Linked DNA regions of Homo sapiens: region 1 is linked to region 2. Evidence: fine-mapped expression QTL. A gene starts in region 2. The other region holds a variant in brackets. All regions are shown on one strand. Distances are between the middles of the regions. Region 1 overlaps B4GALT1 (beta-1,4-galactosyltransferase 1). Region 2 holds the start of B4GALT1 (beta-1,4-galactosyltransferase 1).

Region 1 (5,000 bases), 54 kb after region 2:
AACCAATGTCCTTTGTAAAAATCCCTCCTTTCATTATGGTCCCCTTTCACTGTGAAACAAGTTTCCTTGAGCAGAATCCTAACTGTCTTCACAGAAGCTTTGTGTTATATTTTTATTTTGGAGTATTTTCACATATACAAAAGAGATACTGTAGTATAATAAACCTTTGAGGACCTATCCAGCCCCAGCAACCATTATGGCCTGGTCAGTTCTGTCCCATCCACATCCTGGGGCTCTTTTTAAGCTGGTAAATCATTATGATGTGGGTTGTCATTTACAGTGGTAAAAAACATCTATCAGTAGCATTTGAAAGAACATTCTGCTCAGTCCTCTGGCTGTAGAGGCTTCAACCCCACCAGCCACCGATGAGCACCTTCTCCCTCCAGGAGCCAGTCTGAGCTCATTACTGAGTTTAATATCAGAATACACCCTGGTGCAGCCTTTCTAAATTGCAGTACCAGTTAACAGAAGGTGTCTGTCAGAGCAACACCCAAGTCATTCAAGTTACCATTGTGTGCAAACTTAACAGAGACCCACGTCTTCAATATAAGCCTTGAAGGAAACTCCAGTTTTAGTATGTAGATGGGGTATCAAGTGTGTGCACATTGAACATCTGCTGCATACAGAGCACTGTGCCAGGCAGGCCCAGGACACTGAAAACCTGGACATAGGGTCCAGACAGAAGCAAGCCTGCTTCCACAGAGGCACTCCTGGGCAGACACTCTGGACTGATATGACAGTGTGCAGGGCCGACAGGATACCACAGGTCTGAATGGTCAGAACAGCTGGGGAGGGAGGGAGCATCCGCAGGCATCTAGTCCCATGCTAACGCAGTGGCACTAGAAGGATGGGTGGTGTGTGGAGCAACTTTCTTGAAAGATAAAGGACCTAACACTTTCTATGCACCACTTACTGTGTGCCAGGCAAGGCCAGGAATGTTTAAGTGGTCTGGGATCAGCCAGTTCTGCCTCTTAACTAACTTTGCTGTCCTGCTCTCCAGGCTTTCATTTTGGTCCTCATTCCTTTTCCTTGGACCAACACAGAATCCTCCACCCTGTTCTGGCTGCCTCTAGTCTTGTTCTCAGCCCTCCATTTGTTTTTTTCTGCCTTTTCCCACATGTTCTGAAGCCCTCCATTCGTATACTACTTTCCAGAGACTTCCCCATGGCTAAAAGCATTTTGGAAATACTGTATATTAGGCCCCTTTCAGATACTGGCAACCGTTTGTGGGATGCTCTGAGAAGGCCTCTGTGACTTAGCCTGGCCCTTTTCAGCCCATCACCTGCCACGTCCTACCCCAGACCCTTGTCACCAGTCCCCAGGAGCTTACGTTGCTCCCTGAGGGCACTAGGCTTGCTCTCACTTCCATGCCTTTGCCTGTGCCATCCTGGCTGCCCAAAATGCTATGGCAGATACCTGTTCATCCTCAACTGGGCTCTGCCTAGGCTTGCTCCAGCAGAGGTTACAAACTCTATGCTTCTTCCTCTGTGTCTCCAACCTCATCTTCCTCTTCTCACCTCCATCCTGGCCCTAAAGGCCCTATGTTTGAAGCATTCACACTGTATATTCTGTGGGGCACACGGCCCCAGTGTCTGGCACATGGTAGTCAACACCACAAACCGCAGAACCAGTTGTAAAAGGACATGGAGTCGGAATGTGAGTTTTAACCAGGGTCATGCTGGGCTGGGTTCTGGCATGATGCTGGGTTGTGGGCTGAGTGAGAACAGCAAGGGTGATGGTGGATGGAGCAACAGTCTTGCAGCCGGGGCTCTCAGGCCAAGTGTATGGCAGCTCTGTGATAATGACTTTCCCTTTACTCTTTGCAGATTAGTTTTTAGAGGCATGTCTATATCTCGCCCAAATGCTGTGGTCGGGAGGTGTCGCATGATCCGCCACTCAAGAGACAAGAAAAATGAACCCAATCCTCAGAGGTGCATTCTTTGTTTATTCATACTCCTTCCCCCTTTAGGATGAGGTAGGCTGCAGGTCCGAGGCTCTGGGCCTAGAGGGAAATTGAGGTGGTCAGGTTACAGTGGAGAGGGAGGAGGAAGTACGTGTGATGATTTCTTCTTAAGATTTTTGTTTTAAGACAATCTCCTTGTGCTCTTTTCCTTGTAGGTTTGACCGAATTGCACACACAAAGGAGACAATGCTCTCTGATGGTTTGAACTCACTCACCTACCAGGTGCTGGATGTACAGAGATACCCATTGTATACCCAAATCACAGTGGACATCGGGACACCGAGCTAGCGTTTTGGTACACGGATAAGAGACCTGAAATTAGCCAGGGACCTCTGCTGTGTGTCTCTGCCAATCTGCTGGGCTGGTCCCTCTCATTTTTACCAGTCTGAGTGACAGGTCCCCTTCGCTCATCATTCAGATGGCTTTCCAGATGACCAGGACGAGTGGGATATTTTGCCCCCAACTTGGCTCGGCATGTGAATTCTTAGCTCTGCAAGGTGTTTATGCCTTTGCGGGTTTCTTGATGTGTTCGCAGTGTCACCCCAGAGTCAGAACTGTACACATCCCAAAATTTGGTGGCCGTGGAACACATTCCCGGTGATAGAATTGCTAAATTGTCGTGAAATAGGTTAGAATTTTTCTTTAAATTATGGTTTTCTTATTCGTGAAAATT[C/T]GGAGAGTGCTGCTAAAATTGGATTGGTGTGATCTTTTTGGTAGTTGTAATTTAACAGAAAAACACAAAATTTCAACCATTCTTAATGTTACGTCCTCCCCCCACCCCCTTCTTTCAGTGGTATGCAACCACTGCAATCACTGTGCATATGTCTTTTCTTAGCAAAAGGATTTTAAAACTTGAGCCCTGGACCTTTTGTCCTATGTGTGTGGATTCCAGGGCAACTCTAGCATCAGAGCAAAAGCCTTGGGTTTCTCGCATTCAGTGGCCTATCTCCAGATTGTCTGATTTCTGAATGTAAAGTTGTTGTGTTTTTTTTTAAATAGTAGTTTGTAGTATTTTAAAGAAAGAACAGATCGAGTTCTAATTATGATCTAGCTTGATTTTGTGTTGATCCAAATTTGCATAGCTGTTTAATGTTAAGTCATGACAATTTATTTTTCTTGGCATGCTATGTAAACTTGAATTTCCTATGTATTTTTATTGTGGTGTTTTAAATATGGGGAGGGGTATTGAGCATTTTTTAGGGAGAAAAATAAATATATGCTGTAGTGGCCACAAATAGGCCTATGATTTAGCTGGCAGGCCAGGTTTTCTCAAGAGCAAAATCACCCTCTGGCCCCTTGGCAGGTAAGGCCTCCCGGTCAGCATTATCCTGCCAGACCTCGGGGAGGATACCTGGGAGACAGAAGCCTCTGCACCTACTGTGCAGAACTCTCCACTTCCCCAACCCTCCCCAGGTGGGCAGGGCGGAGGGAGCCTCAGCCTCCTTAGACTGACCCCTCAGGCCCCTAGGCTGGGGGGTTGTAAATAACAGCAGTCAGGTTGTTTACCAGCCCTTTGCACCTCCCCAGGCAGAGGGAGCCTCTGTTCTGGTGGGGGCCACCTCCCTCAGAGGCTCTGCTAGCCACACTCCGTGGCCCACCCTTTGTTACCAGTTCTTCCTCCTTCCTCTTTTCCCCTGCCTTTCTCATTCCTTCCTTCGTCTCCCTTTTTGTTCCTTTGCCTCTTGCCTGTCCCCTAAAACTTGACTGTGGCACTCAGGGTCAAACAGACTATCCATTCCCCAGCATGAATGTGCCTTTTAATTAGTGATCTAGAAAGAAGTTCAGCCGAACCCACACCCCAACTCCCTCCCAAGAACTTCGGTGCCTAAAGCCTCCTGTTCCACCTCAGGTTTTCACAGGTGCTCCCACCCCAGTTGAGGCTCCCACCCACAGGGCTGTCTGTCACAAACCCACCTCTGTTGGGAGCTATTGAGCCACCTGGGATGAGATGACACAAGGCACTCCTACCACTGAGCGCCTTTGCCAGGTCCAGCCTGGGCTCAGGTTCCAAGACTCAGCTGCCTAATCCCAGGGTTGAGCCTTGTGCTCGTGGCGGACCCCAAACCACTGCCCTCCTGGGTACCAGCCCTCAGTGTGGAGGCTGAGCTGGTGCCTGGCCCCAGTCTTATCTGTGCCTTTACTGCTTTGCGCATCTCAGATGCTAACTTGGTTCTTTTTCCAGAAGCCTTTGTATTGGTTAAAAATTATTTTCCATTGCAGAAGCAGCTGGACTATGCAAAAAGTATTTCTCTGTCAGTTCCCCACTCTATACCAAGGATATTATTAAAACTAGAAATGACTGCATTGAGAGGGAGTTGTGGGAAATAAGAAGAATGAAAGCCTCTCTTTCTGTCCGCAGATCCTGACTTTTCCAAAGTGCCTTAAAAGAAATCAGACAAATGCCCTGAGTGGTAACTTCTGTGTTATTTTACTCTTAAAACCAAACTCTACCTTTTCTTGTTGTTTTTTTTTTTTTTTTTTTTTTTTTTTTGGTTACCTTCTCATTCATGTCAAGTATGTGGTTCATTCTTAGAACCAAGGGAAATACTGCTCCCCCCATTTGCTGACGTAGTGCTCTCATGGGCTCACCTGGGCCCAAGGCACAGCCAGGGCACAGTTAGGCCTGGATGTTTGCCTGGTCCGTGAGATGCCGCGGGTCCTGTTTCCTTACTGGGGATTTCAGGGCTGGGGGTTCAGGGAGCATTTCCTTTTCCTGGGAGTTATGACCGCGAAGTTGTCATGTGCCGTGCCCTTTTCTGTTTCTGTGTATCCTATTGCTGGTGACTCTGTGTGAACTGGCCTTTGGGAAAGATCAGAGAGGGCAGAGGTGGCACAGGACAGTAAAGGAGATGCTGTGCTGGCCTTCAGCCTGGACAGGGTCTCTGCTGACTGCCAGGGGCGGGGGCTCTGCATAGCCAGGATGACGGCTTTCATGTCCCAGAGACCTGTTGTGCTGTGTATTTTGATTTCCTGTGTATGCAAATGTGTGTATTTACCATTGTGTAGGGGGCTGTGTCTGATCTTGGTGTTCAAAACA
Region 2 (5,417 bases):
TGAACAAGAGAGAAATTTCCTGTTCTCATGAAGCTGATTTTCTAATGAGGGAGGCAAGACAACAGAAAATAAATGCATAATGTTGGGTAGTTGATATCCACTCTGAAAAAAATCAAGCAGGTTAAGGCCGGGCGCGGTGGCTCACGCCTGTAATCCCAGCACTTTGGGAGGCCGAGGCGGGCGGATCACCTGAGGTCAGGAGTTTGAAACCAGCCTGGCCAACATGGTGAAATCCGTCTCTACTAAAAACACAAAAAATTAGCCCGGCGTGATGGCAGGCACCTGTAATCCCAGCTACTCAAGAGGCTGAGGCAGGAGAATCGCTTGAACCCGGGAGGCAGAGGTTGCAGTGAGGTGAGATTGCACCATTGCACTCCAACCTGGGGGACAAAAGCAAGACTTTGTCTCAAAAAAAAAAAAAAAAAAATTCAAGCAGTTTAAGCAGATTTGGGCAGGAGGCCATTCTGCATAAGGTAGTCTGAAAAGGTCTCTGTCATAAGGTGACATTTAAGAGACCTGAATTGAATGAAATATTGGGGACAAGTGTTTCAGGCTAAATGAACAGCAAGTACAAAGGCCCTGAGGCAGGAAGAAATATGGCAAGTTCAAGGAATAGCTATCAGGCTAGTGTGGCTAAGGCAGGTCCAGCATGGTAGAGTGACAGATGTGGGTGGGGAGGGAAATAGGAACCAGATTGAACAGGGTTTCTGTGGATTTGGTTCTGAACAAAATGGCATGATCTGATTTATGCTTACAAAGATTTCCTGGATGCTCTGTGGAAAACAGACTAGGGAGGAGGAATGGAGGAGGTGGAAGCAGGGTGACCAATTAGTAGCTGCCATATAACCCAGGGCAAGATGATGGTGGCTTGATCGAGGATGGTTACATCAGAGTTGGCTGGTGGTGAATTTTGATGTTTTGAAGGTAGCACTGACAAAGCTGGCTGAGGGCTTGCAAATGGCATTGAGAGCAAGAGAAGCACATCAAGGACACCTTTTAGATTCTGGGGAACTGAATAAACAATAGTATCACTCTCTGAGGGAGGTAAGAACGGGAGTGGTGTGTAAGGAGTAGGTTGCTGAGGGCAAGATGTATTGTGTTTGAGATGCCAGTAAAATAAGCAGTTGAATCTGGAGGTCAGGGAAGAGATCTGGGCTGGAGACAAATCAGTGATCAGCATTTGGATATTATAAATCATTCCGAGGCAGTAAGTGTAGACACAAAAGAACATCATGGACTATGGCTGGGGCCTTCAGCAACTGGGGAAGAAGTCCAGAGAGGAGACAGAAATGGCCAGTGAAGTGAGGAAGATCAGAAGGACCTGGTGTCCAGGAAGTCAAGTGAGGAAAGTTGATTCTGTATGATCACAACCAAAGTGTCAACTCATAAGCCTTATTTTCTCATCTGTGAAATGGACACCGTAACACCACCTACTTCATGGCAGATAGTACTGGCACACAGCAAACTCTCAAAATAAGGTAGCTACTGTTATTCCCTGATGGTTGGCTGCCAGAGCCCTCAACTTCCCTATCCACATTACTGACAGCACCTCCATGAGTCTTTCTCTGGGGTGAGGTGTCTCTGCTCACTCAGGGCCTGAGGCCTCTGGGTCAAATCGAGGTCAAGTGGCTTCAGTGCCTAAGTCTCTCACCCACACAGCCTTCAGCCCTTACTTGCAAATCAACAAAGGGTAAACCTGTAGAAAACATGGGTTTCGGAGCCAGAATTCTGCCTCTTGCCAGCTGTGGGCTCTTAGGAAAGTTTCTTAATCTGCCGGGGCCCCACTCTACGACATGGGGAGAACTGCTACTTCATGGGACAGTGGGTAGCCCAGTGTAGACTGTAACGCCGGCTGATCTCCTGCACGCTGGCCTGGGAGTTAGAGGCTTCTTGCTGCTCTCCTCTTCAAAGTATACAGGACTCCCGCCACACACACATCTGGAACCAAGCTGGTCTGAGAGCCCCTTATAGCCCAGGCTACCTGATGGGGAGGCACAGAAGTGGCAACCCGTCCACTTTCTTTGCCGCAGGACCCCCCGTTAAGCAGCGGGGTCCAGCCGGGCTGAGTTAGGGAGGGGGTTTCGAACGTGCCACTCCTCGCCCGGCGTCGAAGCCCGTTTCCTGGGTAACCTTTTTCTGCCTCTCTTCCTAGCCCACCAAGGCCCACTGGCCAGAACGCCGCCGCGGCCCCAAACCACTCCAGATAACCACCCGCCAGCTGTCCTCTCCGTTCTCTCCGCCGCCGCGCTGCAGGCCCAGGCTCGCACCCGAGTCCCTTCGCACCCCAGGAAGTGGCGCGGCCTGTCGAGGGCAGCGTGGAGGAGGAAGAGGAGGCGCGGCTCAACGCGACCGAAGCTCCGCCGCAAAGGCTCGGGAGGAAGAGGGCGGTGCGCGGCCAAGCGTCGGAGCTGCAGTCATACTCCGGGGACCCCACGACGGCGCCCCGCCCGCTGCCCACCCTCCCGAGGCCCCGCCCAGCGCGCCCATCCCGCCACGGGCTGCCCCGCCTTCCCGCCCTCGTCCAGAAAACCCCGCGCCCGGCCCCGCCCCCGCCTTCGCCGGGGCCCCGCCCCTCCCCTCTCCGCCGGCGCCTCGGGCGGCTTCTCGCCGCTCCCAGGTCTGGCTGGCTGGAGGAGTCTCAGCTCTCAGCCGCTCGCCCGCCCCCGCTCCGGGCCCTCCCCTAGTCGCCGCTGTGGGGCAGCGCCTGGCGGGCGGCCCGCGGGCGGGTCGCCTCCCCTCCTGTAGCCCACACCCTTCTTAAAGCGGCGGCGGGAAGATGAGGCTTCGGGAGCCGCTCCTGAGCGGCAGCGCCGCGATGCCAGGCGCGTCCCTACAGCGGGCCTGCCGCCTGCTCGTGGCCGTCTGCGCTCTGCACCTTGGCGTCACCCTCGTTTACTACCTGGCTGGCCGCGACCTGAGCCGCCTGCCCCAACTGGTCGGAGTCTCCACACCGCTGCAGGGCGGCTCGAACAGTGCCGCCGCCATCGGGCAGTCCTCCGGGGAGCTCCGGACCGGAGGGGCCCGGCCGCCGCCTCCTCTAGGCGCCTCCTCCCAGCCGCGCCCGGGTGGCGACTCCAGCCCAGTCGTGGATTCTGGCCCTGGCCCCGCTAGCAACTTGACCTCGGTCCCAGTGCCCCACACCACCGCACTGTCGCTGCCCGCCTGCCCTGAGGAGTCCCCGCTGCTTGGTAAGGACTCGGGTCGGCGCCAGTCGGAGGATTGGGACCCCCCCGGATTTCCCCGACAGGGTCCCCCAGACATTCCCTCAGGCTGGCTCTTCTACGACAGCCAGCCTCCCTCTTCTGGATCAGAGTTTTAAATCCCAGACAGAGGCTTGGGACTGGATGGGAGAGAAGGTTTGCGAGGTGGGTCCCTGGGGAGTCCTGTTGGAGGCGTGGGGCCGGGACCGCACAGGGAAGTCCCGAGGCCCCTCTAGCCCCAGAACCAGAGAAGGCCTTGGAGACTTCCCTGCTGTGGCCCGAGGCTCAGGAAGTTTTGGAGTTTGGGTCTGCTTAGGGCTTCGAGCAGCCTTGCACTGAGAACTCTGGTAGGGACCTCGAGTAATCCACTCCCTTTTGGGGACTGACGTGAGGCTCCCGGTGGGGAAGGAGACTGACCTCTCGGTTCACGTGTCTTGCCATAGAGCCACTCTCCTGAGTGGGTTTTTCTCCTGATCGTTTGGGCCAAGTGACTTCTCTCTGAACCTCATATTTCTCTTCTGGGATAATAAATGGTCACCCTTTCAAGGGGTTGTTTTGGAAGATATTGTGAACAATGGTAAATAAGGGCTTAATTAATGAGGGTAAGCCCTCAGTAAATTGTCACTGTGTGTTCATTTCTTCCTCTGTGTGGATCGTGACCGAGAGCCCTTCCCCCTAGCCTCCTCCTGGTATGGGTACCCAAAACCTAGGTGAGCAGGGATCTCTCCCAGGGGCAGAGAGCTTGTGTACTCTGGGTGTTAGAGGGCTAAAATATAACCAGTCAACACCACGTTGCCCATTTCTGGTACTTCCGGTAGCAGCCTGAGTCTCAATTATCTTGCCCAGATGATCTGAACTCTGACCTCTAGCCTGTTTCAGCATAGGCAGAGAGCTTGAGTAGGTGAGTTTGCATTCCTCATAGCAGCTGGCTGAGCCTAGTCTGGACTTCTCTTTGACCTGTAACCTACAGGCCCACAGGCCCAAGGCAACCACAGGTTGCTTCCAGGGTTACCACACAGGTGGTTTCTCATTTCTAATGCTAGGTTTTAGATAATTGTTGTAAGTGAGGGGCCCTGGCAGGCAGGATGACATCCTGCCAATAGGAGTTTTCTGTCACTTTCCCACAGAGCCCTGGCTACTACATACTCTTGCTCAATTTCGCCAGTAATTGCGTCAATGTGTTCATATCAAGTTTGGGAAGAACATCTTGGAATTGGTCAGACGTGAACTGTGGTAATAATGGGGGCTTGTTTTTTTAAGCAGATAATTAAATTCCTTTGCATTTGATGATTATTCTGGGAAGCAGACTAGTCCCATAAAATGAAATGGACTCTGCCTTGCTGCTAAGTGTCTGACTTGAGACATGCTATCGAGTTTCTCAAAATCTCTTCCTTGTGTAAAATGTGGTTGTCGATGATTACCTTACAGGGGTTTTTTTAAGACTAAATGAGATCGTGTACATTAAATACAGGCACTCAGGCTGGGCATGGTGGCTCACGCCTGTAATCCTAGCACTTTGGGAGGCTGAGGGGAGTGGATCACTTGAGGTTAGGAGTTTGAGACCAGCCTGGCCAATATGGTGAAACACCATCCCATCTCTACAAAAATACAAAAAAGTTAGCCAGGGGTGGTGGCATCGCAGCTACTCAGGAGGCCGAGGCAGGAGAATTGCTTGAACCTGGGAGGCAGAGGTTGCAGTGAGTCAAGATTGTGCCAGTACACTCCAGCCTGGGCGACGAAGCAAGACTGTCTAAAAAAAAAAAAAAAAAAAAAAATACGGGCACTCAATACACCGTATAATAATAATATAGTAATAATATTTGCTTAGGATCTTTAAAAAGTTTCATTTTTTCAGACTCCCACAGAAATGGCTCTGCACAGCAGAGTGAAGGGGGAGAGAGACTGAGTCTCCAGGCCAGAAAAAGGCCAGGTTTTTTGCTTTTGTTTTTAGTTGTTGCCTGGATATTGCACAGAAAGAAAAAATAATTAGCAAGTTAAACAAAAGTACCGCAAAGTTGATTACATTGGTATTTGAGTATCACATCTTCTCTCAGAAGCGTAAGAGACAAGGTCGTGACCATACCTCTGCTTAGTTTTGTTTTGTAATGGTGTTGCTAGTGATCGGCTTGTCACCAGTTACTGGTGTTTCTAAATGGACTATAATTGGCTACTTGAAAGGACTTCCTGAGAAAGAACATTTTGGAGGACGAGGAGAGA

The links. PIP is the estimated chance that this variant, and not a neighbour inherited with it, causes the effect.
Region 1: its variant is fine-mapped to the expression of B4GALT1 in aorta (GTEx, PIP 0.95).

What each region holds. Positions count from the first base shown.
Region 1 is chr9:33,110,705-33,115,704 of GRCh38, reverse strand. It overlaps B4GALT1 (beta-1,4-galactosyltransferase 1), which reads left to right. Exons shown (of 6, transcript NM_001497.4): 5 at 1,827-1,931; 6 at 2,119-5,000. The coding sequence ends at 2,251. Among named protein-coding and RNA genes, the nearest start is that of MIR12117, 4.5 kb to the right of the region's middle. RefSeq lists an enhancer at 3,515-4,114. The variant C/T (reference allele first, on the strand shown) is at 2,637.
Region 2 is chr9:33,164,529-33,169,945 of GRCh38, reverse strand. B4GALT1 (beta-1,4-galactosyltransferase 1) reads left to right here and starts at 2,610. Exons shown (of 6, transcript NM_001497.4): 1 at 2,610-3,188. The coding sequence starts at 2,777. It overlaps B4GALT1-AS1 (B4GALT1 antisense RNA 1), which reads right to left and starts at 2,998. Exons shown (of 3, transcript NR_108110.1): 1 at 2,900-2,998. RefSeq lists enhancers at 2,027-2,106, 1,629-2,193, 2,177-2,276, 2,194-2,759 and silencers at 2,427-2,826, 2,585-2,858.